4 linked regions of the Homo sapiens genome follow. The protein of the gene in region 2 interacts with the protein of the main gene of each other region in a pairwise test. Each region holds a gene or a part of one and is shown on either strand. Other genes may lie near its edges. The genes, in order: BLMH, TRIO, LIMS1 and ITSN2.

Evidence for each region.
Region 1: the proteins of TRIO (region 2) and BLMH interact in a two-hybrid assay, tested with the Homo sapiens proteins (one large-scale study listed by BioGRID and IntAct).
Region 3: the proteins of TRIO (region 2) and LIMS1 interact in a two-hybrid assay, tested with the Homo sapiens proteins (one large-scale study listed by BioGRID and IntAct).
Region 4: the proteins of TRIO (region 2) and ITSN2 interact in a two-hybrid assay, tested with the Homo sapiens proteins (one large-scale study listed by BioGRID).

What each region holds. Positions count from the first base shown.
Region 1 is NC_000017.11:30,271,445-30,279,485, forward strand, and holds part of BLMH (bleomycin hydrolase), read right to left. Parts: intron 2,754-8,041; coding exon 2,598-2,753; intron 1,456-2,597; coding exon 1,297-1,455; intron 1,185-1,296; coding exon 1,117-1,184; intron 1-1,116. UniProt on the Homo sapiens protein: The normal physiological role of BLM hydrolase is unknown, but it catalyzes the inactivation of the antitumor drug BLM (a glycopeptide) by hydrolyzing the carboxamide bond of its B-aminoalaninamide moiety thus protecting normal and malignant cells from BLM toxicity.
Region 2 is NC_000005.10:14,142,215-14,146,141, reverse strand, and holds the start of TRIO (triple functional domain protein), read right to left. Parts: upstream 2,801-3,927; 5' UTR 2,417-2,800; coding exon 2,260-2,416; exon of another isoform or gene 1,613-2,259; intron 1,337-1,612; exon of another isoform or gene 1,161-1,336; coding exon of another isoform or gene 1,121-1,160; intron 1-1,120. UniProt on the Homo sapiens protein: Guanine nucleotide exchange factor (GEF) for RHOA and RAC1 GTPases. Involved in coordinating actin remodeling, which is necessary for cell migration and growth. Plays a key role in the regulation of neurite outgrowth and lamellipodia formation.
Region 3 is NC_000002.12:108,674,445-108,682,485, reverse strand, and holds part of LIMS1 (LIM and senescent cell antigen-like-containing domain protein 1), read right to left. Parts: intron 6,609-8,041; coding exon 6,458-6,608; intron 5,881-6,457; coding exon 5,788-5,880; intron 5,692-5,787; exon of another isoform or gene 5,556-5,691; intron 5,173-5,555; exon of another isoform or gene 4,995-5,172; intron 4,508-4,994; coding exon 4,459-4,507; intron 4,048-4,458; exon of another isoform or gene 3,885-4,047; intron 1,792-3,884; coding exon 1,716-1,791; intron 1,518-1,715; coding exon of another isoform or gene 1,370-1,517; exon of another isoform or gene 1,326-1,369; intron 1-1,325. UniProt on the Homo sapiens protein: Within the IPP (ILK-PINCH-PARVIN) complex, binds to F-actin, promoting F-actin bundling, a process required to generate force for actin cytoskeleton reorganization and subsequent dynamic cell adhesion events such as cell spreading and migration.
Region 4 is NC_000002.12:24,202,496-24,210,536, forward strand, and holds the end of ITSN2 (intersectin-2), read right to left. Parts: intron 7,539-8,041; coding exon 7,323-7,538; intron 6,727-7,322; coding exon 6,605-6,726; intron 5,825-6,604; coding exon 5,742-5,824; intron 3,781-5,741; coding exon of another isoform or gene 3,752-3,780; exon of another isoform or gene 3,749-3,751; intron 2,803-3,748; coding exon 2,719-2,802; intron 1,924-2,718; coding exon 1,750-1,923; intron 1,289-1,749; coding exon 1,131-1,288; 3' UTR 369-1,130; downstream 1-368.

The sequences.
Region 1 (8,041 bases), on a different chromosome or scaffold from region 2:
TTTTGGTTGTAAAAGGAATTCAGAAGAAACTGAAGGGGCTCAACAGCTCCAAATAAATAAGGCTCTAGCTGTAGCTCTTCAGAAAGAATATGGAACATGCAGAACTTAGTCTCTCAGTGGGAGTCCATTCTCTATGTGTCACAAGAGTATGCAGGAAAAAAAGGAGATGATTAAACATAAATTCTCCACATCAGAAGCTGACAAGTTTACATTGTCATTTAGGCAAGAAAACTTTAAAAAATAATGAAAAAAGCGTTTGAAGTAACTTCTTAGAAAACTGATCTCTTTTGAGCTGGTGGAACCAACCAGTTTCTGAATTCATTTAAATCACTGCTGATTAAAATTTAAATAAATAATGTCCAAAATATTGGGGAATATTTTTGCATAAGCACTACACTCACATTGTTAAATACAAAGAAACAAAAGGCAAAATACATGTGAGAGAGGTCCTTGCATGTTCTAGTTAGTGTGAGAGACACACTTGGGAGTTGCATGTACCTGTTTTCAAAAATTTTTTAAACCTCATTAATTCTTTTTTTTAGCAGATTTCTCTATCAAGATATTTACTCAACTTCCTACAAGTAACAACTATTTATAAGTAACCCTAAAATAGAGAATGGTGAACAGTCAAGGAATCCTATATGATTTAGTTTACAAATTAACCTTCATTGTCATAAATGACCAGGAGGAATGCTATAAAGTATGCATGCAAATTAGTCCCACTTGTCACAATGACAAAATACAAAGTTACCAAAGTAACATAGCAAACGGGGGCTCTGGAAAATCTTTCATTACACTCCCAAATGCACTGAACACATTTCCGCAATAGTCAATTATTTTTTTAAAGTGTCTTTCTCATAGAGGATGGCTTTTTAGGAACGCCCAACGATTTCCACTCAGATAGAAAGTGGGATTTTGATGTCCTGGGTTAGAGTGTTTAAGTATGTGGAGTTTCTGCTATGAGTCCTCAAACTCTAAAGGATGCAAAGAAAGAGACGCGCCCTTAGGTCAACCTTCATCTTTGGATGAACCTCGGCAGAGTCATTTTGTACCAACAGCACACTCCAACAGCAACAACCCACAAATGACTTTCCATTTTAAATTTCCTGCACTCACAGATTCATGTCACTGAGGCCCAGCTTGCTATTGAAGTGTTTTCCAACATCACAGCCAAACCACACAGCCTAGAAACAGAAGAAAGAGGAAGAAAGTCAACATAAACCCCATCTTCCTATTATACCAAAGAAGTAAAAGATGTTTTAACCCCAATGTGCAAAATACAGAAACAATACCAACCTCTCCATCTTTGATGGAGGCAGCAACCATCTTTTTCAGGAAGTCAATGGGCTGGTTGTTGTATAGAGTTTTTCTCCCTCCAACCATATTGCTTAAGTATTCCACTGTGTAAAGTTTGTTGTACTTGTGCTGGGGCCTAGGGTCATTCACTAAACAAATCTATCAAGATCAAGAACACATTAATTAGGGCACAAAACCAGGAATGTCAAGCAACACACAGCTCTCCTCTAGGTTCATGTTTCCATCAAGCTCATCATCTCTGCCTACAAGCTAAGTACTACAGCCACATTGTTAAGTAACAAAGAAACACAAGGTGGCAAAATACATGTGAGAGAGGTCCTTGCTTATTCTAATTCGCGTAAGAGACACAATTAGGAGGTGCATCTACCTGTTTTTCCTACTAGCAAGAACTGCTCCAAAAGCAATTTTTTTTTTTTTTTTTTTGAGACAGAATCTCACTCTGTCGCCCAGGCTGGAGTGCAATGGCGCCATCTCGGCTCACTGCAACCTCCGCCTCCCAGGTTCAAGTGATTCTCCTGCTTCAGCCTCCCAAGTAGCTGGGATTACAGATGTGCGCCACCATGCCTGGCTAATTTTTGTATTTTTAGTAGAGACGGAGTTTCACCATGTTGGCCAGGCTGGTCTCGAACTCCCGAACTCAGGTGATCCACTCACCACAGCCTCCCAGTGTGCTGGGATTACAGGCATGAGCCACCGCACCCGGCCCTCAAAACTCATTCTGAAAAATAACATGCACTGAGTAAGAAAAATTGGAGAGCTAATCACAAGGCCCCTGTTCTCAAGTTACAAGACAGGCATCTGCTTGGAAGAGGATCAAGAAGCCAATAAAAGGAAGAGGCTCTGATCCTCCTACTAGGCAGATGAGGAAGACCTAAAGGGAACAGGAAAAACTAAGATTACTCCCTTCAACAGGAGAGTTCCCCGAGGGGACCTCAGTGCAAAAGTGCTCTGAATCCACGATAAGAAATACCCAACACACTTTCATTGTTTTGCACTTGAGAATGATTCTGGTCCTATACAGGGGCGCATGTGGGAATTAAAATGACTGCTGGCTTACAGTTTAAAAAGTCTCTGAAGAGGAACATTGTGGAAAAGCTGATAAATCCTGGCACCACCAACTTCATTAGCTGCATAAAATACTTCAGAGGAAGTGGGGAAAAATGTTTGTTTGCTGTCTAGTTTGATACTCATACATGCTAACCAAGAATCTTATACAATTCCCTGTGGTTAACAGCCATTTGAAAGTAAACAGCCAGTGACTACCAGTGCCATTCACCAACCTTATCTTCCATATTGAAGAGTGGCTTGACATGTTCCCTGTAAAACTCCAAGGGTGTTATGGGGCCAATTTTCTGATAATTTTTATCTTTGTCTCGATATTCCCAGGTGAATGTCTCTGGTGGATTACCCAAACAGATGCACACCACTCGGAATATCTGGAAGAGAGGAGGAGGAAAGGCGAGCAATGGTTAGGGGGAAATGTTATTTTTTTCACCTCTTCATTTTCCTTAAGCTTAGGAAACACAAGAAGTTAGTGGCTAAATTCAAGCTAAAAATTTCACAAGAAATCTAATACTGCGTCAAAAACTGGAAAGCCGATGTCTGAGATTTGTTATCAGTCAACTTATGAGTTCTCAAATAAACACTGTGAACAATGCGATTCTGAAATGTTAACATTTAGTGCTTAGTACTTGTCCTGAAAATTTAAACTTCCTTAGCCAAGAATCTGTCTACCATTGATACCCAGCAAGATCTGAGTTGCTGCTCTGATTATTTTTCAAGTAACCAAAAAATGACAAATTTTATAAATGGATTTCCTTCCCTTTATACATTGATGTTTTCCTTATTACAACAGGGGTCTCTAGTCATAGGAAAGTAACTAATTTTTCAGCTGGAGTTGGATGACAATGCCTGTTAAAAGTATTACTAGAAGAGGAGGGCCAGGTGCAGTGGTTCATGCCTGTAATCCCAGTACTTTGGGAAGCTGAGGTTGGAGGATCCCTTGAACCCAGGAGTTCAAGACCAGCCTGGATAACATAGTGAAACCTCATCTTAAAAAAGAAAAAAATTAGCTGGACGTGGTGGCTCATGCCTGTAGTCCCAGGTGCTCAAGAGGCTGAGGAGGGAGGATCGCTTGAGCCCAGGAGGCAGAAGCTTCAGTGAGCCATGATCGTGCCACTACACTCCAGCCTGGGTGACAGAGCAAGACCCTATCTCAAAAAATACAAAAATTAGGGGCACATGTTCTCAGGATCTCCTGAGGGCTGAGTCATGGTTTAAAAAAAAAAAAAAAAAAAGTACAAAAACTAGCCAGGCGTGGTGGCCTGTGCCTGTGGTCACAGCTACTCAGGAGGCTGAGGTGGGGTGACCACTTGAGCCCAGGAGGCAGAGGTTGCAGTGAGTTGAGATCACACCACTGCACTCCAGCCTGAGTGACAGAGTGAGGACCCTGTCTCAAAAATAAAAAGAAGAGGAGTGACTTTTAGTAATAAGGTATAATTTTTTGGGTTGTGAGACAACATATTTTCTAATGATGTCACAACACCTTCAAGTTAACATCATTACGATCCAAGGATATACTTTATATTATTTTCATTTTATAGAAATGCAAAAACAAGGCTGGGCACAGTGGCTCACGCCTGTAATCCCAGCACTTTGGGAGGCTGAGGCAGGTGGATCATGAGGTCAGGAGTTTGAGACCAGCCTGGCCAACATGGTGAAACCCTGTCTTTACTAAAGATACAAAAGAAAACAAAACAAAACAAAACAAAAAAACTAGCTGGGCATGGTGGTATGTACCTATAATCCCAGCTACTCGGGAGGCTGAGGCAGGAGAATCCCTTGAACCCAGGAGGCAGAGGTTGCAGTGAGCCGAGATCATGCCATTGCACTCTGGCCTGGGGGACAGGGCGAGACTCCATCTCAAAAAAAAAAAGAAAGCAATGCAAAAATAGAAAAAGAGATACACCCTGCACAAGGACAGAATAAAGAAAGTATTTTATCTTCTATATCAAATGTCCTTGTCTTTTTAAAAACATAACACTATGATCTGCCTGTCCCTTTTGCACCCACAGTCACCACCCTGATCCAATCATCTATTACCTGCATTATTTATACTACACATTTCTATCCGCTATCACATTCAACAGAAACAGATTTTATATTTACCAAGTGTGCCTATATTGTGCTAGATACTATGTATTTGCTAGGTCCACGTAATTCTCATAATACCCTCTCAAGGTATATTTCCCTCCACTTCCCCTTCACCTTTTTTTTTTAAATCAGAGATTGAGACACAAAGAAACCAAGTAATTTACTTAAGGTCACACAGCCAGCAAGTGGAAAACCACAATCTAAACTGAGGTCACATGCTGTCAAAAACAACAACAACAACAAAATATTGCTCCTTGGCTACAGGATTTAAAAAGGGAAGATGTACTGACCGTCTACTTTGCTGTACTATCTTTCACTACCATATTTCTTAAGCCTCTCAACAAAGATGGTGGATATTATCCCCCTTTTACAGATAAGGATATCAAGGTTCAGGGAAATAAATCACTTTCCTGAAGTCATAGAGCCAGTAAATGGCAGAATTAGGATTTGAACTTAGGGCTGACTTTAATATGTTGTTTCCAAAACTCCATCTATTTACCATTTACTGTAACTTTCTAGATTTCATATAACTTGTCTCCCATAAAAGATTATACACTTCTTAAAGATAAGAACCAGATCATGGATATTTTGTGTCCTTTATAGCATCTAGCAGTGCTGGCGACATGACACAGATACACCAGTTGATCTGAACATTGTTCCATTCTCCATATCACCACAGGAGAATTTGAAAAGCACTACTTTTCTCAACTCACGTCCCTGTTGAAGATCCAATGTTTCCCTATTACCTCCCATAACAAATCCAAACTCCGTGACCTAATTCCTTTTTCTTACTTTTTAACTTAGGCAAAACATATGTTTAGTGTGTAAAACACACTAACAATTCGTTTTTTAAAAACATACATATATACCCATGTAACCATCATTCATATCAATATACATAACATTTCCAGGCTCTGGAGGTTCTCTGGCTCCTTTGCTGTTAAGTAACCCACAACTTCCACCAGATAACCACTGTTTTTACTTTATAACCATTGATTAGTTTTGCCTGTCCTTTAACTTCGTATAAAAGTATTCATAGAACACATTATCTTTTGTGTCTGGCTTCCTTTGGCTGACATAATGTCTGTGAGATTCACACACATTGCTGTGTATATGAGCAATTTGTTCACTGCTGTGATTCTATCTTAACAGAAGCAAGTTAACTTAGAGAAGAAGTTATGCTTGCCTGTCATTTTGTTTTGTTCTGTTTTCCAAGAGAGAACCTTCCTTTATTAAGATTTACTGTGTGTGTTACGAGCCTGAACATCTAGTCATTAAACCATCTCTCTTTTAACGTTATATCCTTCCCAAGTTGGTTTCTACCACAGAAAGGAGGCAGAGTATCACATAAGCAACCGTAATTGAGTTACTCTAGCCAAGGATTAATGAGCTCTGTTTGGGATTCACATTCATTTTGTATTTACTCAGTGCCAAGGCTACAAATGACAACTTTAGGCATCTGTCATTATGAAGAAGACATTGCCACTGGTAACTATGGTCAAGTCAATGACAATGAAGGTGTACAGTCAGAACATACTTAGATTAGAAAGGTTTTAAAGACCTAAATGATGTGTATTTTCAACTAGTAACTACTGTTACATGTGTATCTACATGTAGTAGTGGAACCATTTCAATCAATTCTCAGTTATCCAACGGTGGTAAATTCAGCTCAGCCAGGCCCTGGCCAAAAAAGGAGAGGCAATGCCAGGCCCAACTAAGATGAAGATAACTAAGTGAATTTCTGGTTACTTTTAAACATATTCTAAAGATAAATACAAATGTTTTACACTATAATTTGCAAAATACCTTATTATGTACTTGACTCCCTGTTTAAAGTAAAAAGTGTTAAATTCCTCCTTCTCCCAAATACATTAGAGGAAATATGCATTTCTGCTATCTAAATGAATTCTATAGTGAGTCCTTTTATAAAACAATGCTTATGCCCTTCACATATATTTTATAAATCTGAATTTTAATAAAAATATAATTAAGGCATAAATAAGGATAAGGGTGATATTTCTTTTAGATTCTAGTAAAACTTTGTAACTTGAGACATGTTGCATTGTTTTATACTATTTGTTTACCATGACTATAAATTATCCAAAGTCATTAATATTTAAGTCAGTCTGTAACACTTTGGAAGGAATATCTGACTCTGAGCCAAATAACAATAGTTAATTAAATAAGCTCTCATTAAAAAAAAATGCTCCAAAGAATAATTTCCATGGTCTCTGATACTATATTTTCTTGATAAGAGACTCTGCAGTTCTGAAATAACATTCCCTGGGCAGTGAGCTTTAGATATCCAACTCTGCTCTCTGGTGGGCAACACTGGAGTGTCACCTGCTTCTCACAAGATCTACTTGGCATCCAGGACAAAAAGATACTGAACAGTGAACACAAGAGATTATACAGAATTGAGTAAAATAAGAGTACAACCATATCCCTCAGAATATAATTACACATTAAATTAATATTAAAACCAACAATTAGCCCATTTAGGGAAATGTATTTGTGACTTTAATTGAAATTGCTCACTTCCCATCCCAGTACTTCACATCTTTTTTCCTTTACTTTTCTCCATTGCACTTATCTTCTGGCATATTATACTTCTTATACACTTTGTCTTTCCCTACTAGAACATCAACTACACAAAGATAGGTATTCTTTTCTGTGTTGTTCACTGTTTAATCTCCAATGCCTAGAATAGTGTCAGATACATATGTTAAGAAATATTTAACGAACACGTGACTTTTTTTGTGGGGGGGAGCGGGGGACAGAGCCTCACTCTGTCACCCAGGCTGGAATGCGGTGGCACGATCTCGGCTCGCTGCAACCTCTGCCTCCCAGGTTCAAGCATTTCTCATGCCTCAGCCTCCCAAGTAGCAGTGATTACAGGCATGCACCACCATGCCTGGCTAATTTTTTGTATTTTCGGTAGAGACAGGGTTTTGCCATGTTGGCCAGGCTGGTCTTGAACTCCGGGCCTCAAGTGATCTGCCTGCCTCCCAGAGTGCTGGGATTATAGGCGTAAGCCGCCACACCCAGCCCCACATCTAGCCCCAAGCACTTTTGTCATTTCAAACCAAATTTAGAACCAATCTGATAAAGGGGGTGGACTTGGAATATGGGCTTTCCAAAATGCTGGAAAGCTGAAGGCAAAGATATACACGGCTCAATGACACCTGGCAACTGATTCTGCTTTTCCTCAACTCCTCAAACGAATAATGATGTGATCCTATTAATTCTAAATCTGGTTTAAAAAGAACAGAAGAAGCCAATGATTCTAATTATTCCCTTAAATATAGATTACTGAGAAAGGTCCCCTAAAATTGTGATATGAGTCCCAGAGTATAAAGGGCAGCCTGCCCAAAATTGAGCTAAATTTTTTGATTGATGGAGACCCTTTGCTTGTCCCCTGGGGGCAGTTGTATGTCAAGGGAAGCTACACTGAGTGCATCTGTACTTGCCTCTTGGGGCCATTTGTCTTCTGATTAAGATTTTATATCTTTAGCTAATTAAATAGAGAATTTAAACTAACCTAAAACAATGTGGATTATATATAGTCCCT
Region 2 (3,927 bases):
CATCGTTGGCCTAGATGCTAGAGCCAAGATCTAGGTCAGGGACTCAGAGCTGCCCAAAGGAGATTTCACTTTTAAAAAGACGTTCCAGGCTATCGCTGGAATGGGATGCTGCATCTGATACCTACTTAAGTTCTGCCCTGGCTCCTGATTCTAAGTGAAACAACTAAAAAGTTAAGTTTGTCATTTTGGAGGGCAGAAGAAAGGAACAAGCCAGTGAGACATTACCTGGTTCTGACCCAAACGGAACATGAACAGGAGCCCTGGCGGCGGGGGCAGCACAGGCCTAAGCAAAGCCAAGAGCAGACGACAACTCCTGGAGAGAGCCACGCCAACAGGCAGCAAATCTTCGGTGTCTTTTAGGGAGGGCTCTTAGCAGCAGCAGAAGTGATTTTTGTACTATGCATAATAGAGATGTAAAAAAGCCTGGTCTCACAAACACCAAAAAATCCATCTCCAACGCAGAAGAGCCTTTCTAACAGAGAGGAGCTGAATTCTGCACAGAATCTATTATTCTGTGACAGGTAGGTAGAGAGAAAGCTAGACTTAGCTTCAGGGCATGAAGGGAATACGTCCCAGTTCTGCTATTAAGAGGTAAGACGGGGCTGCTCTATCTGGCCAGTCGCACCAAAAAAAAAAAGGTGGGGGGGGGTAGCTTTCTTTAGAAGGAGCTCATGTTTTCCTAAACCTTTGCTTTCTGCAGGCACTTCTCAAGGAGAGTGAGCACTGGGGAGTAGATTAACCCCAAGCTAACACTGGACAGTCGGCTGTGTCACTCCCAGCCACAACCAATCTGCTAAAATGAATCAAAAATAACCCCGCCTAGCAAAGATCAAGACAACCAAGAGAAGACAGTACTAAACCAGGTATCTACCAGCACTGCTAACTTCTGCCTCTCACCATCGCCCTCCCGCTGCAATTGCTCCTCGTGACCCGGATTGGGGAACTGATCTCACCGAATCTGGGGAGGTGATTTTCAAAGAGGCCACGGAAAAGCGTGAACCGCCGACCTCCCGCGCGTCCCCCAGCGCAGGGCCGCTCCCCCGGCCTGTCGGTGTCCCCAGCCCGGCCGTCCTCCCCGAGGCCGCCACCAGCACCCCCGCCCGCCTCTCCAGGCCCGGACCTGGCCCGCCCTCCTCCGCTCTCCAACCCGGAGTCTGCATCCTCCCTGCCCCGTGCCCGGCCCGCTAAGGACTGCGCTCTGGGTGCCGGCCCCGAGGCCGCCGCCGCCGCCGCCGCCTCCTCCTCCTCCTGCTGCTGCTCAGCCGACGCGCGAGCAGACCGGACTGGGCGCGGGGACGCGGGACGCGGGGACGCGGGCCCGGCTCGCGCGGGATCTGGGCCGGAGCGGGAGGAGGCGCCGCCGCTGGGGTACCGGGGACGCCCTGTCACGCCCCCTGCGCAGCAAACCCGGTGCCCCTCCCGCGGACCGGTCGCCACCCGCGCCTCTCCCGCGGCCACCCCCTCTGCGCCGGGGTGGACTCGGGGCCACCTGGCACCGCCTCCACCTCCACGCCACCCACACAGTGCCCCGCGAGCCCCAGCCCCGCGCCGCCCCCCCGGGGCCACGTTCCCAGCTGACCCTCCCGGGTCGTCCCCGGAGACAATGGCTCACCGCGCCTCCCGGTCCTCCGAGCTTCAGCTCGGCCACCGTCCCCACTCCCTGGGCAGTGAGTGCCGTGACTGCCCCGTTTCACAGAAGTGTAGACCAAGGCCGGGGAGATGACAGGCTAGAGGGCCAAGCAAAGAAACCCGGCTGCTAATGGGGTCGAGGAGGGTCCAGGTACAAATCAGCCAGAGACAGGCACAGATCAAAGACCAATTTCCCGTCCCGGACCGGCCCCGGCTCAGTCCGCTCGGCCTCCGGGGTAAGAGCCTCCGCCCACGCCATCTCCGCCGCCGCCTCCTCGGTCCTCCAGCGAAAGAGACAAAGAGCCGGCGCCCCAACCCGCGAAGCCGCGGCTGCCGGGAGCGGCAGACCGGGGGATTCTGCCCTAAAACGAGGGGCGGGCGCAGGGAGGGCGAGGTGGTGGCATTCGGGCCAAGCTGCCGCGCGCCCGGCTGCGCGGGCAGCGGGACACGCGGATGTGGGGCGGGCAGCCCCGGCGCATGGAAGCAGTGGTCCCAGGCGAGAGCCTGCGGGCCCCGACGGACGGACGGGCGGGCACCAGCGCGCGGTGGCCGGAGCTCGGCAGCTCCGCGGCGGGTCGGCCGAGCGCTTGGGGCAGCGCCGCTGGGCGGGCCGGCCGCAGTTGCACTCACCGGATCGGAAGAAGGCCGCGATGTCGGCCAGGTCCTTGGCCGCCTCCTCTGCCCCCTCGCCGGCACCGCCCCCGCAGCCCGAGCCAGCCGCGCTGGCCGCCGCGGCGGGGCCGGAGGACGCGGCGGGGGCGGCGGCTCCGCCGCTGCTGCCGCTCATGGCTGCGGCGGCGCCCGCGGCCGCGCCCGCCTCGGGCCCCGCGCCCCTAGCGCCGCGTGCCGCCCGCTCCGCGCCGGGCCTGGCGGCGCCGAGCACCCAGCTGCCCGCGCCCGGCGCGCGGACGCAGAGCCCCGGGGCGGCGGGGGGCGGCGGCGGCGGCTCGGCCCAAGGAGCGCGCCCACATAGACGAGGACTCCGCCCGGTAGCCGCGAGCTGGCCGAGGGGCGGAGGCGCGGAGCCACGGCCTCCCGGGCGCCGGCCGGAGCGCGGGCAGCAGCACGCGCCTCCCGGACGCGCAGTCGCGAGGGCGGGGGCCCGTGGCCGGCGAGACCTCCGGGATCACGGGCGCCGGCGGCTGCCGCGAGCCTCCATCTTGATTTCAATGGGGAAGGAAGGAGGGGGGAGGGGGAAATCACGGCCGAGGGAACCCGGGTGAAAGGAAAAGGGAGAACAGGGAACGGAGAGGAAGGAAAAAAAAGAGGGGCTTCGGTAATTTCCGGCGAACTTCGTCAAGGGCCGAGCCTGGGCTCGGCGGTGGGCGGAGCCTGGGGGAGGGGCGGGGCCGCGTTGGGCGGATGGGCTCCCGCAGGGCTGGCGGGGAGGCTGCAGGAACGTTCGGTTTGGTTCGGTCTGCTTCCCCGGGGCAGCTCCAAGCCTTGGAAGGCGCAGGAAAGCTCTGACCAGCCGGGGCGGACCTTCCCAGGCCCGGCATTGCGCCCCCAACCGGGGCGCTGGCTCCTGCACCGGTGCGCGGTCCCCTGAGCGCCGAGGCGTTTCGTCGTCTAGCCCGCAAGGCGGGGTGACGCGGGCCGGGGCGGGTGCCTCCCTAGTGGGCTCAGCGCTGGCCCTGGCTCGGGGAGGGGGCTTCTTAATAGTTGTTGAGTGAACATAGAGGGCCCGAAAACAGGTTATCTGCTCCAGTCCCGGAGGCCACGGTACTCCTAAGGGTACAAAGCTCTCCTGTAAAATGGGATTCCTCTCGGTGTATCCCCATCTCCCAGGGGACTTTCGGCTGCTGAACCTCGGGTTCACGGTTTCTCAGTCCTTACTCCGCCAGAATGAATGGGGAAGATGACGGGGTCTGGGGAGGCCAAAAGAAATGTTCCTTTGCGGAAGATCCGTGTCAAACCAGCGCTGGACGAATATTCTAGTTCAAAACGCCTATGCCCCGGCTACGAGGAGAGTGAAAGGATCCAGTGCCGGGGGAAACAGGCAGAAGCAAGAGAGATGAAAAACAACTGGGTGATGAAACCACCACACGAGTATACTGGAAATAGACAAATGTAAATGGTGGATGGTGGCCATCAAATCTTCACTGCTGGAGTGGAGGTTACAGCCAGGAAGAGGCTAGAGTGATCCTTGTGGTACAGGGTTAGAGTTGGAGACATCGTTATGGACTCATGTTTGGGGTCTACATCTATATTATATATTCATAATGTATATAATGGGTCTGTACAGAGATTTGTAGATAAAGGGTCGTACACATACTTGTATCTCTTTGCTTTGTCAGC
Region 3 (8,041 bases), on a different chromosome or scaffold from region 2:
CTCTGTCGCCCAGGGTGGAATGCAGTGGCACGATCTCGGCTCACTGCAACCTCCGCCTCTCAGGTTCAAGCGATTCTCCTGTCTCAGCCTCGCGAGTATCTGGGATTACAGGCACCCGCCACCATGCCTGGCTAATTTTTTTGTATTTTTAGTAGAGACGGGGCTTCACCATGTTGCCCAGGCTGATCTCAAGTGATCTGCTGCCTTGGCATCTCAAAGTGCTGGGATCACAGGCGTGAGCCACCATGCCCGGCCTCATTGTTTTAATCTTACATTTACATTTAATTCCTCTTTATAGAAGGAAACATGTAAACTGGAACAAAATATTTTTAGAGCTCCAAACACAATGGTAACTATGAGGGAAAACTGGAACAATCATGCTGGTAATTCAAAAGAATTTCAAAGATTGAAATACTTCTCATAAAAATCAGGAATAAAAAAAGAGTTTGAAGACATTGAGGAAATGAATTCATAAACAGTAGCATATGGGTATTGTATGAATGCACATTCGAACATCACAGAAGAAGATGTCTTACGTAAATCAGATGGACTTTGCTTAGATACGAAACATGCTGAAAGATTTTTTTTTTTTTTTGAGACAGAGTCTCACTCTGTCGCCCAAGCTGGAGTGCAGTGGCAGTCATGGCTCACTGCAGCAGCCTCAGCCTCCTGAGTAGCTGGGACTATAGGTATGGGCCACCACGCCTGGCTAATTTGTTTTTTTTTTTTGACGGATGGGGTCTAGGCATGTAGTCCAGGCTGGTCTCAAAATCCTGGGCTCAGGCAATCCTTCCACTCTGCCTTCCTAAAGTGCTGGGATTACAGGCGTGAGCCACCATGCCTCGCCATGCTGAAATAATTTAATACATAACTTAGAATATATGCATTTTTAAAAATATCAAACAACACTTATAATTTATCAATTAAATGATCGTGGCAAGGAAACCAAAAACCAGGATTTTAAAAGCTACAGTTAATCAGACAAAAATCCTTTAAAATGTTTTCCAGGGTCTATTAAGAGATTAGAATTCTTCCCTTTAAATCCATTAAAAAAAAAAGAAAGAAATGTATACTATATGGTGTTTAAAAAATGAGGTGAGTGAGTCTACAGAGTAAGTGAAATACATGACCACAAAACTGTATTAAGTATGGAGTGTATTCATTTAATTTTTGTAATTTTAGCAGTTATGCAAAAGGACCAGTTCTACATAGGACAAATACTTGTATTTCAATCTCTGATGACTACAAATACATGCCCAAAAGTTGCAGGGGGGGAAGAAAGCAAAAGACAGAAACAGAACAAAAACATATTCCAAAGGACTAACCAAAGGAGAAAGCAGTGAAAATGATGACACAGGGATAGAAAAGTTTACAAACAGACTGGCTTTTTCTTTTTCTGCTTGTCCTTATCCTTTGCTTCTCTCTCCCGTTTGGCAAGTCGCCTCTTAAATTCTTCTGGCATTTTCTCATAACAGTGTTTGCAGACTGGCTTTAGGTCAATTTCAACAAACTTATCCCTTTGAGTAGGACAAAGAAGGAATAGAAGAAAGAACAGGGAACAGTTAAAGGAAGAACCTTTACTTTCAGAAGGCCTGAACAGAAAGAGGAAATAAGAAATCAAATAATTCTCTTTTTCTAAATTCTAGGATTTTTTTTAAGTGTCTCCCCAAAGTTTTCAGTCTTAGGATTCACACTGGACAAAACCGTACACTTACTTGAGTGTTAATTTAGTGTTGCAGGTAGAACAGGCAAAGCAGTTCACGCACCAGGCCTTATTAAGAGCAGAGACCACTGGAGAAAGAGGAAAGAGATCTGGTCACATGGAAATACATCAGTATGGGGAGCAGGGCAGCTTAGAATTTCAACTCCAAAACAGAACTACGACTGTGTCTGTGGCACTTGGTGGAGGTTCTCAAGAACCTTTTTTTTTTTTTTTTTTTTTTTTAAATGAGACAGGGTCTTGCTCTATAGCCCAGGCTGGAGTACAGTGGCACAATCTTGGCTCACTGTAACCCCAACCTCCCAGGCTCAAGTGATCCTCCCACCTCAGCCTCCTGAGTAGCTGGGACTACAGGTGCATGCCACTACACCTGGCTAATTTTTTTTTTTTTTTTTTTTTTGAGACGGAATCTCGCTCTGTTGCCAGGCTGGAGTGCAGTGGCGCAATCACGGCTCACTGCAACCTCCGCCTCCTGGGTTCAAGCGATTCTCCTGCCTCATTTTCCCAAGTAGCTGGGACTACAGGTGCGTGCCACCATGCCCAGCTAATTTTTGTATTTAATAGAGACGGGATTTCACCATGTTGGCCAAGATGGTCTCAATCTCTTGACCTTGTGATCCGCCCGTCTTGGCCTCCCAGAGTGCTGGGATTACAAGCGTGAGCCACTGCGCCCGGCCTATACCTGTCTAATTTTTGTATTTTTTATAGAGACACGGTCTTGCCATGTTTCCCAGGACGGTCTTGAACTCCTGGGCTCAAGCAATCTACCTGCCTCGGTCTCCCAAAATGCTGAGATTATAGGCATGAGCCACCATGCCCAGCCAAGAACCTCTTTCCTGAGAGCTTCTTTTCTTTTGTTTTTCAGACAGGGTCTCGCTCTGTTGTCCAGGCTGTATTGCAGTGGTGCGATCACAGCTCGAACTCCTGGGCTCAAGCAATCTTCTCCTCTCGTTCTCCTGTGTAGCTGGGACCATAGGTGTGTGCTACCACACCTGGCTAATTTTTTATTTTGTAGAGATGGAGGTCTTGCTCTGTTGCCCAGGCTGGTATCGAACTCCTGGCCTCAAGAAATTCTCCTGTCTCGGCCTCCTTAAGTGCTGGGATTACAGGTATAAGCCACCACACCCGGCCCTCAACCTTTATGTATACAGTTGTTGCTCAGTATGTGCAGGATACTGTTTCTAGGATGCTGTGAGGATACCAAAATCTCAGACGCTCAAGTCCCTGATATAAAATGCATATAACCTATGTACATTGTCTTGTATACATTTATTTATTTTTTTTGAGACGAAGTTTTTGCTCTTGTTGCCCAGGCTGGAGTGCAATGGTGTGATCTTGGCTCACAGCAACCTCTGCCTCCCGGGTTCAGGTGATTCTCCTGTCTCAGCCTCCCGAGTAGCTGGGATCATAGGCATGCACCACCACACCCAGCTAAGTTTTTGTATTTTTAGTAGAGATGGGGTTTCACCATGTTGGCCAGACTGCTCTTGAACTCTTGACCTCAGTTGATCTGCCCGCCTTGGCCTCCCAAAGTGTTGGGATCACAGGCGTGAGCCACTGAGCCTGGTCCTATCTCGTATACTTTAGATCATCTCTAGGTTAATTATAATGCCTAGTACAATGTAAATGATATGTAAATAGTCATTATACTGTACTATTTGTACTGTTATATTGTTATTTTTCTCTAAATATTTTTGATCCATAGTTGGTTGAATCCACGGATGTTTGGATCCAGCCCCTGGATACGGAGGGCTGACTTTAATCTTCCCCCATCCTTAAGTATCCTGTGAAGTTATAAATGATGTGTGCCATGTCTTACACCAGCAACTGTGCCCCCTTGGCCTGGGCACATGTGGCAACTGTCCATGCACCATGTTGTTTAGGTGAGCTTGCTGTTTCTGTCCCTACTGCTGTTGGCCCAACATGGAAATATGAACTAGGTAAATAATTTTCAAAAATCCAGACATTAACTTATTTGCCCCTGTAGGAGTCTTTTTTCCAGAGCTGATGATAAGAAGACAGTTTCCTTTGCAGCTTCTTTCACCTGGCATCTATTTCACAGAGGAGGGAGGTAAGTTTTATTTTCAATGGCACTAAAGATTGTTTTCCTGGATTGTTTTCACAAACTGCACATGAACAGTGTTTCAAAAGTATTTCCTGAATTAGGTGATGTCTGCAGGGAGCCATGAATCATGCTGAAAACAGGATTGTTCAAAACTTTGCCAGGAAGTCTCTGGCAGAAGTGTGTTAGCGAGTCTTAGCAAACACAGCTGCTTCCTTTCTGTTCCAATCAATCAGCCCAGCCTAATTACCACAGTACAAGGGTGGTAAGTCCTAGATATGCTTGCTGATAACTGCCAGCTTTTAGCATGTGCAGGTTAAAGTGCCTCTTCCTAACTACGATAGCAGATTAAACTGTTCCTAATAAACGTTGTTCTAGAGCTTCCTGAAACTGGACACAAACAGGTCTTAGGGTCCACCAGGGACAGTTCCCATGATTGCTGGCATACAACACTGCAGCAGTGGCCGAAAGTAGTGTCATAAATCAGTAACAAATCCAACTCTTTGATATTATCATCTTACTGCTACAGATTACTTGGAAAATACGCCAAAGATAGAGAAAAAGTAACTGATAACGATCACATTTCAAACCATACAATCACCAACCTGAATTTCCACATTACCCAAGTGTTTTTGTGTCAAAGTGGCACCAATCTAAAACTCACACAGATACTTACCATCACCTTCTATAACACGATTGCAGTGGAAGCAAACATCACCAAATAGCTGAAAATAAAAAAAGGTGGTCAAAGTTCAAGATGTGTTAGAATTTTTAGAACACTGAACATTTAAAAATAGCTGGCTATCTAAATTGAGGATTTATCACTACTAGAGAAATTTAGTAAAAGTTCTTTGACAAGTTTTTACTTCTTACAATGAAAGTAATTCACTCTCATCAATTAAAAGAAAAACTTTCCAGATGACAGTTTGAACACCCAAATAAGTGATGCAAAATATAGAAATCTGTGAGTCCATATGGATAAGAAATAGATAAATGAATAAACCTATAGACGGGAGAGGAGGTGGGTTCTTGCTCAGGCAGAGCGCTGAGGACCAGACTATGGGTGGAGGGCATGGGGCTGGAGAAGTGTCGTTTGCAGCTGGCGCAGAGACAAGAATCATCAAGGGGTGCTGAATCTAGGGCAGGTTGATGAGGAACAGGACATTTCCATGGTCATAAAATGATTGCCCACAGATTGCTTCTTTCTTACAGAGGAGGGAAGGAAATTGTAATTCACAGTGATGTTATCAGCCAGCACCATGCCTGGGAGATCACCAGGGCAGGAGAGGTATAAAATGCTCCAGGGGCAAGGTTCTGAGAAGATGCCCTGCCACTGTATGAGGCCACAACCTGCTGTGTATAACCTCATCTAAGCACAGAGAAGCACCAGGTGAACCCAAGTGGAAAGTAGTCTATTAAAAAGGGGTTAGGGGCCCTCTGCATCCCTCCAAAATGTCAATGTCATCAAAAATTTTAAAAGACTCTGGAAACGTTCCAGATTTAAGAAGGCTAAAGAAACATCACAGCCAGAGGCTGGGTCCAGTCTGGGAGTGGAAAAAATGCTGTGAGGATATTGACTCAAGTGACAAAACTGGAATAAATGGTTAGAGTACGGTATCAATATTGATAACTACAATTATGTTAGAGAGTCCCATATTCTTGGGAAATATACACTGAAGTATTTAGGGATAAAGGAGTATGATGAACTTATTGGCAAAACAGCCATCGTACTTGTATATAATATTTACGTAACTATGTGTTTTACACAGGAAGACTGAGCTTGGGAAATGATAAAGCAAACTGTGGACTTGAATGAAAGACATACAGGTATTCTTTGTATATTTTATAGTTAGCTTCTGAGTCTGAAATTATTTCCCAAATAAAAAGTTAAAAACAAATCTCTACTGAACAATGTACATCTTCCAAGAGATTTCCTTGTAGCTAAACTACTGATAAGCTTAGGTTCATAAAAGTCTATCTAGCATCCAGTGACTAAGGTCAATACCTGGTTATAGTGAGTTTCACAATATGCCAGGCCTTTCCTCTCATAATGGCGATGTCCAAGAAAGGGTTTCTCACACTTGGCACAAACAAAATGCTGAAAAAAAATTGCTATAGGTCATTTTTGAATTGCCATATTTTATATCTAATAAAGTAAATACCAGAGTTAACCTATTTTCAGAGAAGATGAAGGAAAGTTTGAGACAGTCATTTCATTTGGCCATAGGTGGCCCCATAATATAATACTTCTGCAGTTGTAATTCAGGTGTCTGTCTTTGAAGGTTACTTTAAGACATAGCCTATTATAATAGCCCAAAAAGAGAATAGAGGTGAGCATCTCAGTAGCACCTATAAAGGAGGAGCTGCTGCTGGATACAGACCATGGCACTTCCTGCTTCAAGAAGGCTTTAGGAGCAAAAGTACACATCCTGTATCATTACTGAGACATTCACAAAAGCAGTGTACATTATATATTCTTAGCTGTCAGCAAAGTCAATTGTCTTTAAAATGTCCACGTTTAATCTTTAGAGTCTCCTAATCTTGCCAGGACACCTGAATCATGAAGATTTGAAAGTACTGGTTACCCCTGAATCATGGGAGATCTGAAAGTATTGGTTACCCCTTAATCATGGAGATTTGAAAGGATTGGTTACCCTTTGCCATTTAGAACTCACCTCCACATGCCACTGCTTGCCCATAGCGTTCACCACGCGCCCTTCGATGGGCCGTCGGCAAGCACCACAGATGGGGACCCCCATTTTATCATGGCATGGGAGGCAGTATAGCTCCCCTTTCAGCTCCCGTGCATCGGCAGTCAGCTCCTTCCTGTCCGTGAGAAAGACACACAGCTTAATACTAAGAGAGAAAAGTGGCCAACCAATGGGGCTAGCACACTTTTTAGAAGGTTTTTAAAGACATTACTATGACAATCCCTGCAAATTTCTTTTTTCCCCTTTAGAGGTGATCAGAATAACCTGAATTAATAGGCCTGAACAGGTTTCAGACTCCTACCAAAACATCTGTATCTTAAAAGGATAAGATGCAAGACTAGGTCAGATACATACCACCACACCAGTCATATTCATAATTTCCTTCTTATATTATCACATTACATTTTAGTCCATTTGTCTTCCTCTAAAAGCTACAGGGAATAATCACAGTGCTGAGGGTAGACTCAGTAATACTATCTGCTATGGTGTGACTGTGTCCCCAAAGTTCATGATCCCCAATTCTGAGGTGTTGAGAGGTAGGACCTCTAAGGGGTGATTACATCATGAAGGCTCTGCCCTCACAGATGGATTAACGCTGTTACTGAGGGGGTGGGTTCCTTATAAAAGGACGAGTTCAGCCTCCTTCCTTCTCTTCCTTCCCCCCTCCTCTTCCCCCACCATGTGATGCCCTCTGCTATGTAATGATGCAGAAGAAGGTCCTCACCAGATGCCAGCCCCTTGATCTTGGACTTCCCAGCCTCCAGAACCATGAGCCAAATAAACTTCTGTTGGTTACAAATTACCCAGTTTGTGGTATTCTGTTACAGGCGCATAAAATAGACTAACACACGACCTTTCCAAGCAAACTGAGAAGTTGGGAGACTAGTTCCATTTACTAACAATTATTTAAATTGTCACAAGCTGTTGAAAATAGTTATAGGTTAATAGGTTTATTTTCATAAACAACAAAATGCCCAGAATTTTCCTTCTCCAAATACTCAAATTAAATATTATTTTCAGTCTCCTGCATCAATAAACATTTGGTCAGAGATGGTCCCAATTAGTCAAACGGACTTGTTTGAATTTCATCCCTTTTATGTAATTCTCTAGGAGAGATGCTAATGAAAAGTGGACAGAGGTGAATCCCCAAGAGGAAGGACAGGCAAGAAAACGAGATAAGGCACAAACTGATAATTCAATCACAAAAGATGAGATGGCTGAACTTATACAACCAAACTGTTTTCTTTCTTTCTCTTTTTTTTTTTTTTTTTTTGAGACGAGTCTTGCTTTGCTGCCCAGGCTGGAGTGCAGTGGCGCGATCCACACTCACTGCAAGCTCCACCTCCCAGGTTCATGCCATTCTCCTGCCTCAGCCTCCCGAGTAGCTGGGACTACAGGCACCCACCACCACGCCTGGCTAATTTTTTTATTCTTAGTAGAGATGGGGTTTCACCATGTTAGCCAGGATGGTCTCGATCTCCTGACCTCGTGATCCACCCGCCTCGGCCTCCCAAAGTGCTGGGATTACAGGCGTGTGCCACTGCACCT
Region 4 (8,041 bases), on a different chromosome or scaffold from region 2:
AGACCTGTGTGCATTTCTTTGCTGTAAGTTACCCTCAGGTTATCACTCGATGAGGCAAGCTGAAGGAGGGTCAGTAGCTCCCACAGAGATCATCCATTTCACCCATTAAAGAAACCCAGCCCCAGAAACACGAGGTAGATTCACCAAAGTCACAGAGCAAATTAGTGGCAGAGTCAAGATGAGGCCCTGGGTCTCCTGACCTCATCCTCACTCTGTCCTTGGTTTTCCCACGTACCAGGAAGGAAACTTGGTTTCATTATAGGCAACTTGTGAAGGTACCTTTTAAGAGCCTTTCATCTGGCTGAGAAAATTAAAAAGAAAAAAAGCAGCTTTCATATAGAAAGTAAATCAGTCAGACTTTGACGAAGTTCCATCCATAAACATATGTCTTTATTCTCTTTCTGTACATATGGGCAATGATAAAGCTTAAAGATGCATGTCCTAAGAAATATGCAAAAACAATGAATTTACATAAATAATTTATACTTCAGAAAATTAAAGTTGAAAAATATTTTCCACATTATTAGAGTTCACAGTATTTAAATCAAGCTTTCCCACTTATACTCCAGACTATATTGTCTTAGCAGAGAGTGATAAAATCTAATCAGGAATAAAATGATCAAGTTTCTGTTTTTATTCAGTGCACGAGTAGACGCTATTTCAGTATCAGGCCGCGCCAAGTGTCGAGGCTGCAGCCTCTCATCCTGACCCTTCCCCTCCTGAGTGGCTGTGACCCAGCAGAGGTCACTGGCGTGGAATGGTTACAGCGTCACCAAACCACTCCACGGTGGACACATTCAACCGAGCGGTAACATCTGGTGGTCTGATGCCTCATTTCCAAGTAATACTTTTTATAGCCCTGAAAATGGAAACCTTGGCATCTAAACAAACAGAGCTGAACATGTGAACACTAGGACAAGGCACTGTACTATGGGGTTTGGTTTCTTTATGGGAAAGGTGTTTGCATAGATTGCTAGCTATTTAGTGTGCAGGAAAACAGAGCCCCCAGCGTGCATGGCTTTGTGAGGGGTGAAGCTGCATGGTGCTCCCTCAGCCCCAAGAGAGCGCAGTCTCTCATTCTCCAGCCCCAGCCTTGTGGGCTGTCCCGCTGGTGCTGTCCTTTAGAACCCCTACAGGAGAGTTTTTTGCTCAAAAAGCTGCAGGTCAAAACGGACCCAGACCTCCCCGGTGGGGACCTCATGCAGCAGCAGTCGGCGGGTCATAGGGCCTTTGCTTTCCTGTTCTGTTCGAATTTTTGCCACTGGAATTTCAGTACGACCCAGGAAATCTGGTGAATAAACACAGGAGAGTCAGAAGTCTTTCTTCTTTATAAAATCATTAAAGAGCTACATCCGGAAGAAGTGGATTCATAAAACCTTCAAATCTGAAACAAGGAACTTCTTTTGGCTCATGGCTGTTGAATGTCGTGAGTGGGTGTGTGGGGAATGATGGCAGGTTTGTGTGTGAGAAGCTGCCACATGGAATTCAAATCTCCATTCTGAGAATGCTCCAGGAGTGGTGTTCACGTCGTGTGTGTAGGGAGTGATGGGTCAAAGACCTGAAACACATCTCAGGCCACCTCCTCCCCTGAGGAAGGCCACCCACCTGCTGCCAAAGCGAGATGACACAGGCCTGTGTCACTTCCCTGAAGTGGCATGGGGTCTGCACACAGCTGAAGCCCCTAGATCTGGACTCCAGGATCTAGGAAACTGGGAAAGCCTTTAGATCCCCTGGCTGAGCGACACTTACCATCTGGTGAAAACTGGTCTCTGTCAAACAGGGTGAGACACAGCACGTCTTGGTAGAGATCCTTAATAAAGAACTGGCAGTTAAAATTCCACTTGGGATTGAGTGTGTCCTGGATGGTCCTGGTGGTGTAGCTCTGGGAGCCCATGCTGATTTCACAGTATGGGTTGCTCTTTCCTGAACAAAAACAAACCACAGACACATGTGGTGCATGCAGGTAAAACGAAGCGACTGACAGTGCCCTCCCTGAGCAGAAGCAGGATTCCAATAATGGGTCACTCGAGACCATGGCAGCAGGAGCCGCTGCCTGGGGCACCATATCCCTGTGGTCTAGTAACAGGGTCTCCAAGTTCCCAGTGCTGACAGCAGCATTAACTGGGGAGTGGCCGAGAGCTCCACCGCCAGGACCACTCCGCACGGAACAATCCTGGGTGAGTGTCACTGCAACCTGCTGCATGCTTCCTCGGCGCAGACACACTCGGGAAGGCGGGCACTGGCACTTACTGGGAAAACAGTGATAAGAATATTGGTCCAATATGCGCATTTTAGTGGCACTGGACACACTGTTAGAAAGCATTCCTTTATTCAGTGTTCAGAAGAGTCATCAGTGGCTGGGCGCAGTGGCACTTTGTCAGTGACAAAGTGCTGTAATCCCAGCACTTTGGGAGGCCGAGGCGGGCAGATCACTTGAGGTCAGGAGTTCGAGACCAGCCTGGCCAACATGGTGAAACCCTGTGTCTACTAAAAATACAAGAATTTGCCAGGCGTGGTGGTGCACACCTGTAATCCCAGCTACTCAGGAGGCTAAGCCTTGAGAATCACTTGTACCCCAGAGGCAGAGGTTGCAGTGAGCCAAGATCGTGCCACTGCACTCCAGCCTAGGTTATACACTGAGACTCTGTCTCAAAAAGTCATCAGCAAAAACTGGGGCAGGGCAGTTATGTCTGCTGAATGAATCAAGGCAGTATTTACCATTTGGTTTGCAGGCTTTTAATTCTGTAGCTTCAATGACATGCACCATCAGGCGCCCAATGCCTGAAGTCTTTTGGGAGCGGGCTACAAAAGAGGAAGACAAGTCTCATTAATCTCTTCTCCAAGGATGCAGACCCTGTCTTTCAAACCAACCATAACACTACCGGCTCCCTGTCCCCATCTGCCACTGCCCTGGGCCCAACAGCCCAGCATCTGGCTGCCCTGTGCCTTTCCCCAGGCTGTGTTGCCTGCTAGGAAGCCCCTGCTTGCTCTTTCTGCCCTGCCTGCTTTCTCTGCCCGTCAGCATCCTACTCATCCTTCAAGATGCAGGTCTGATCCCACATCTACCTCCCAGATCCCTTCCCTCCTCTGCATCCAGTATCCCTCGCTTATGAGCAGCCCACAGCCTGCTGGGTCTGAAATCGTGTGTAATGTCTGTCTCCTCTGCCAGACAGGAGCCAGGGTAGAGCATGGACTGTTTCGATCATCCTTATATTAACCCCTCAATTGCCTAGCAAATAGTAATATTAATAAAATAATACATGGTATTTGTGCAGCACTTAATAGCAGCTAACATTTACTGGATACTTACTTTGTGTTAGGCATGTGCTAGACTTATGTAAATTATATTATTTAAACTGCATAATTACCTGATAATGTAGCTCCCCATTTTACTGATGAGAAACACTGAGGCTTAGAAAGGACTGGAGTGTGATCCACTCAGAGCTGCTAAATGGCAGGGTCAACATTTAAACATCAGATACCAAAGTCCAGGCTCAGTTAAGCCTAGCACAGAGCCTGGCACAAAGTAATTGACAAATGTGGGAAGGACTGAACGCACGGACGATGCACAGCAACATATGCAGATGCTGATGGGAAGCAAAACTCAGGCAGAAAAACCGGATTGACATCTTTGGCCAATTAAGAGATCATATGCGTTATGAAATGATCAATCATTGATTTTTCAACAGCAAGCTTTTAAAGTACCATTAAAATAACACTAAATTAGCAAAAGCTGTTTTAAACATACCTTTTAGGAGTATATAACAAAATGGGGGAAACCTGAATAAAAAAACACATAAAGAGCTGCAACTATAGCAGCCAGGAAGCTGGTGGGAGGCCCAGGCAGGAGGGCAGGCTGCATGGGGGGGCCCGGCGGGAAGGAAGGTGGAGATGCAGGGGGCCGGCGGGGAGGAAGGTGGAGATGCAGCTGGCTCAGAGCACAGGCCCCCTGTGGGGTGGAGGCCACAGGCTGGCCTGGCACAGCTGGAGATGCAGCAGGGAGGTTGGGGCCTGGCATTCATGTGGAGGCTGGAGAAGAATGTGGGAGCTCTGGTCTGAAGGCCACGGTGGGGCAGGGTGGGGTGGGGGGTGCTTTACAAAGACCATTGCGGCTCCACTGAGCAGGTGAGTGATCTGTGCCATGAACACAGAGGACATCACCGGTGCAACAAATCTGGAGCCCCACTGGCATAAGTCACATGCTGGCCCCGATGTGGGAGGGAGTTGCCTTGAGGGAGCTTATGGCCATTAAGTGAGAAAAGCAGGGACTGAGAGGGCGCAAGCAGAGGCAACAGAGGATGAGCGCCCGGAGGATGATCGCAGCCTCAGGACAGCGGGGGGTCCAGGTAGAAGTCACACTGGTTAGGGCAAGAGGGTGTCATGGAGGAGGCTGTGTTTGACGTGGGCCTTGAAGGATGGGAAGAATTTAAGGTGAGGGCAGAGCACTTGAGCTGGAGGGGGAGCTCACATGGGAAGGCCAGGCAGGGCAACAATGGGCTGCTCAACTAGGCAGCTGGATGGGCCGGGCACAGGAAAGAGCTAGGGATGGGGCTGGGTGGCAGGTAGTAGTGGGGATGGGCCCTGAGTGTGGGGTAAGAAATGTGTCGTTAATTTGGGAGGCAATAGGGAAGATACTTCAGCAGGAAGAGGTATAAGAGCAGCTCTGGAAAAAAGAATACTCCAGAAATGAAGAGGATGGGTGGCAGAGAGGAAAGAGAGCCTTGTGCTGCAGCCTGGGTGGGAGATCGGGGGCCTGTGATACGGGGACAGGAAAGGGCGATGGGAAAGTGGCGAGGGAGGAGGACTGCAGTGCAGCTGACCAGGTGTGAGGTGCCAGGGAGGGGCCTGGGTGGCCAGGGACCACACTACTGTCCACAGAGGGTCCCAGGAGGAGCTGCTGCTGGAAGGAGGCTGGTGGTCCCTTGGGAAAAGCCGATGTGTGATGTGGGAGCAGCGGGGCAGGTGGTTCTCTGGAGGGTGCTGTTCAGAGGCGCGGGCTTGGGAGAGTGTGGCTAGCCTGACCCTGAAGCTGGGGGTCGGTGGGGTCCCCGAGGGAGAGCGCTACAGAGGTCGGGGAGAGGCCTGGGCAAGGGTGGAAGAAGAACTGGGAAGGCGGCCATGGGGTCCAGAGGGAAGGCAGCGCCTCAGTGACTGCCATCAGTGCAGGGAGCTGGGGCAGGGAAAGTGAGCTGAGCCACTAACTAGGCCACTGGTGTCACTGGTGGGGACAGGACGTGGACTGAAGTCTGGTGAAGTGAGAAGGGGGAGGAGGCAGGGGCAGAAGGATGGGGAGAGGGCAGACTTAGGGTCTAGGCCCCCTGGCTGCAAAGGGAGAGGGTGGATGGCAGGCCCTAGAGGAGGGTGAGGAGGAGCAGTGGCTGCTCAGGAGCTGAAGGGAGACAGACCACAGGTGTGGCATGTAATGGAGCACCACAGCCCAAGCAGAGGTGAGGTGAGTCATGGAGAGAAAGGAGTGGAGAAGGTGCAGTGGAGTGGGGGGGATAGAGGTGGTGCAGAGAGGGAGGTCCCGGAGCTGGCACTGCCAGCCCGTGTCTGTGTGGGCAGGAGCCCCAGGGAGGTTTGCAGTAGTAGCTTCAAGAGGGGAGGGCTCTCTGGTCTGATCCCGCAGCAGGTCTGGTCTTTCAGACCCGTCCCTATATCATCAGCCTGACTGCAGGAGCAGTGGCCGGCATTCCTAGGGCCCCTGGGGGCTGCGTCCCACCCTCCGGGCACCCTGATACCTTGGTAAGCTTTCTCACGCTTCTTCTTCTCGGTGTCGATGTACTGCTCAGACGCCGCCTTGATCTTCTGCACCCAGGCGGTCCTACGGGAGAAGCAGGGGCAGCCGTTGGCCGCATCCCACCCTCACAGGTCAGCGTGGAGCCCCAGAGCTCTGCACATGTTCTTCAGTCTTTTGCTAACCTCAACTTTCACAAGTTTCCTATCAAAGACCTGATATTAGTCAACTGAAAGATGCTTATGCTAATGGAGTATGAGAGCTGGTAGTGACCCTTCTTGGCTGACCACAAAATGCCAGGCACTCGCAAGGCGCTGGGACCTGGAGACAGATGATGCATTGGCCCCACGGATGATACCTGTCACGAGGGGTTCTAGCGCACACAGAGGAGCAGCAGCACCCCCCGGGTTGGCGCCGCGGAGGCACTGTTGGAGCTGCAGCCTGAAGGAAGCTGGGAACAGCGGGGATGGCACCCACACAAGGGCGCCTGAGGGGCGAAAGTCTGCAGGTGGAGGGACGAGGGCTGAGGCCTGTGGCCCAAGGAGGCCTCGGAAACCAGCAAAGCACAGTGGGCTGTCGCCTGCGGGCAGCCCCTGCAGGGACTGTAGCAGGGCCTCAGGTGCTGATCTGCCATTTGGGAAGGCTGCTGAGTGGTGTGGGGAGAGACTAGAAGCCGGGAAGCATGTTAGGAGGCAGCTGCAGTGACCAAGGCCTACCATGGGACTGGAGCAGAGGGGATGTGTTAAGAGAGGTTCAGGATACAGAATTAGTGGGGCTTAAGCACGGCTGGAGATGGGTTTATGGCAGAGGGAGACGTCCAGGCCTTCTCCCAGAGTTCAAGGCAGGCCACACATGGTCAGGACTGACCTCTCATTAATGTTGTCTGTTCGGAGGGTGTAGACCCGATCAATGTGGGAAATGTGGAAGACAGGCTCATCGCTGGAAGGGTCTGTGGGCAGTTTCACCAAGACTTCATTCAGGAAAATGGGCTGAAAGAATTAGGGCCAAAACACAGGCTGTGAGATGGGCTAGAACACTCCACCCGCCTATGTCCAGAGAGAGTTCTGTTTGTTCTGAAGAGCCTTGTTGAGAAGGAGAAAGGGGTCTAGCGTCTAAGGTCTTCTACACAGAACAAATGAAACCTCCATTTGTAAGAACAATGAAGCCTCCATTTCTGGAAAAGTCATTATCGAGGTGGGTCAGGTGTTGGGACTGGGTGGGGACAGGAGCTCCAAGCGCCCATGACGGCTGGTGCAAAAGGCTCTCTGCTAGCAACGCTGGTGCTGTGCTGGGGCTCGGCTTACAGAGACCCAATGCTGAATGCACACAGTGGTGAGCCCAGGTGTCACGCTGGCCAGGAGGAAGCCAGAATCTCAGCTGGAATCTGGCTGATGGCCTGTGGCAGGTGGGGAGTGCCCAGCTGCATGGGGCCCTTCCCGTGGGAAGCAGCAAAGGAAGCACGAGCGATCTGGAACCAGGTGAGGAGGGTCCCGTAAGGCCAGCTCAGGGTCTGCCAGGAAGGCCTTAAGATAGAGGCAACACCTCATTAGGCCCCTGATGCTACCCCCAGACGCGTGATACTCACCGTTTTATACATTTTGAATTGAGCATTGGACTTCGAGCTGAAAAGTTTCTCAGAGCCAGAGGAAACAGCAAACTGCTTGACCATGTAGGTAAGAAGCAGGAAGTCATTGAAGAGGAATCCGTGCAGTTCCTTGTTGCTCTTGGTCTTGTATAATTTCCCACTGTGTAAGAGCTTCCGGGGCCCCAGGCAGTTGGTGAGAGAGTTGAAAATAAGTTGCTTAAAGAGAAAGAAAATTTCACTTTTTAAATCCCGGCACAAACCATCCAGTGCCCCTGAGAGGCCAGTGCCCTGGGCCTGAGGATACTGTGGTGGAGTTTTCTAGGTGGGAATGTGGCTAGAATCATTCACTTTGCATGAAAGATCCTTAAATACATTACTCTTCAGAGTCCAAACTGGCCCAGTGAAAATCATTACTTCTAGCCACAGAACACTGATTCTACCAGCTGAATTCAAAGAACTCAAAACAAAAAATCCCAGTGTTCTCTCCTTAGGAGAAAGGAAGATGACAATCCAAGAAGGAATGCCCTTCATGCCTGCAATCCCAGCACTGTTGGGAGACAGAGGCGGGAGGATCACTTGACGCCAGGAGTTCAAGACCAGCCTGGCCAACATGGTGAAACCCCAGCTCTACTAAAAATACGAAAATTAGCTGGGCATCGTAGCAGATGCCTGTAGTCCCAGCTACTTGGGAGATGGAGGCCAGAGAATCGCTCCAACCC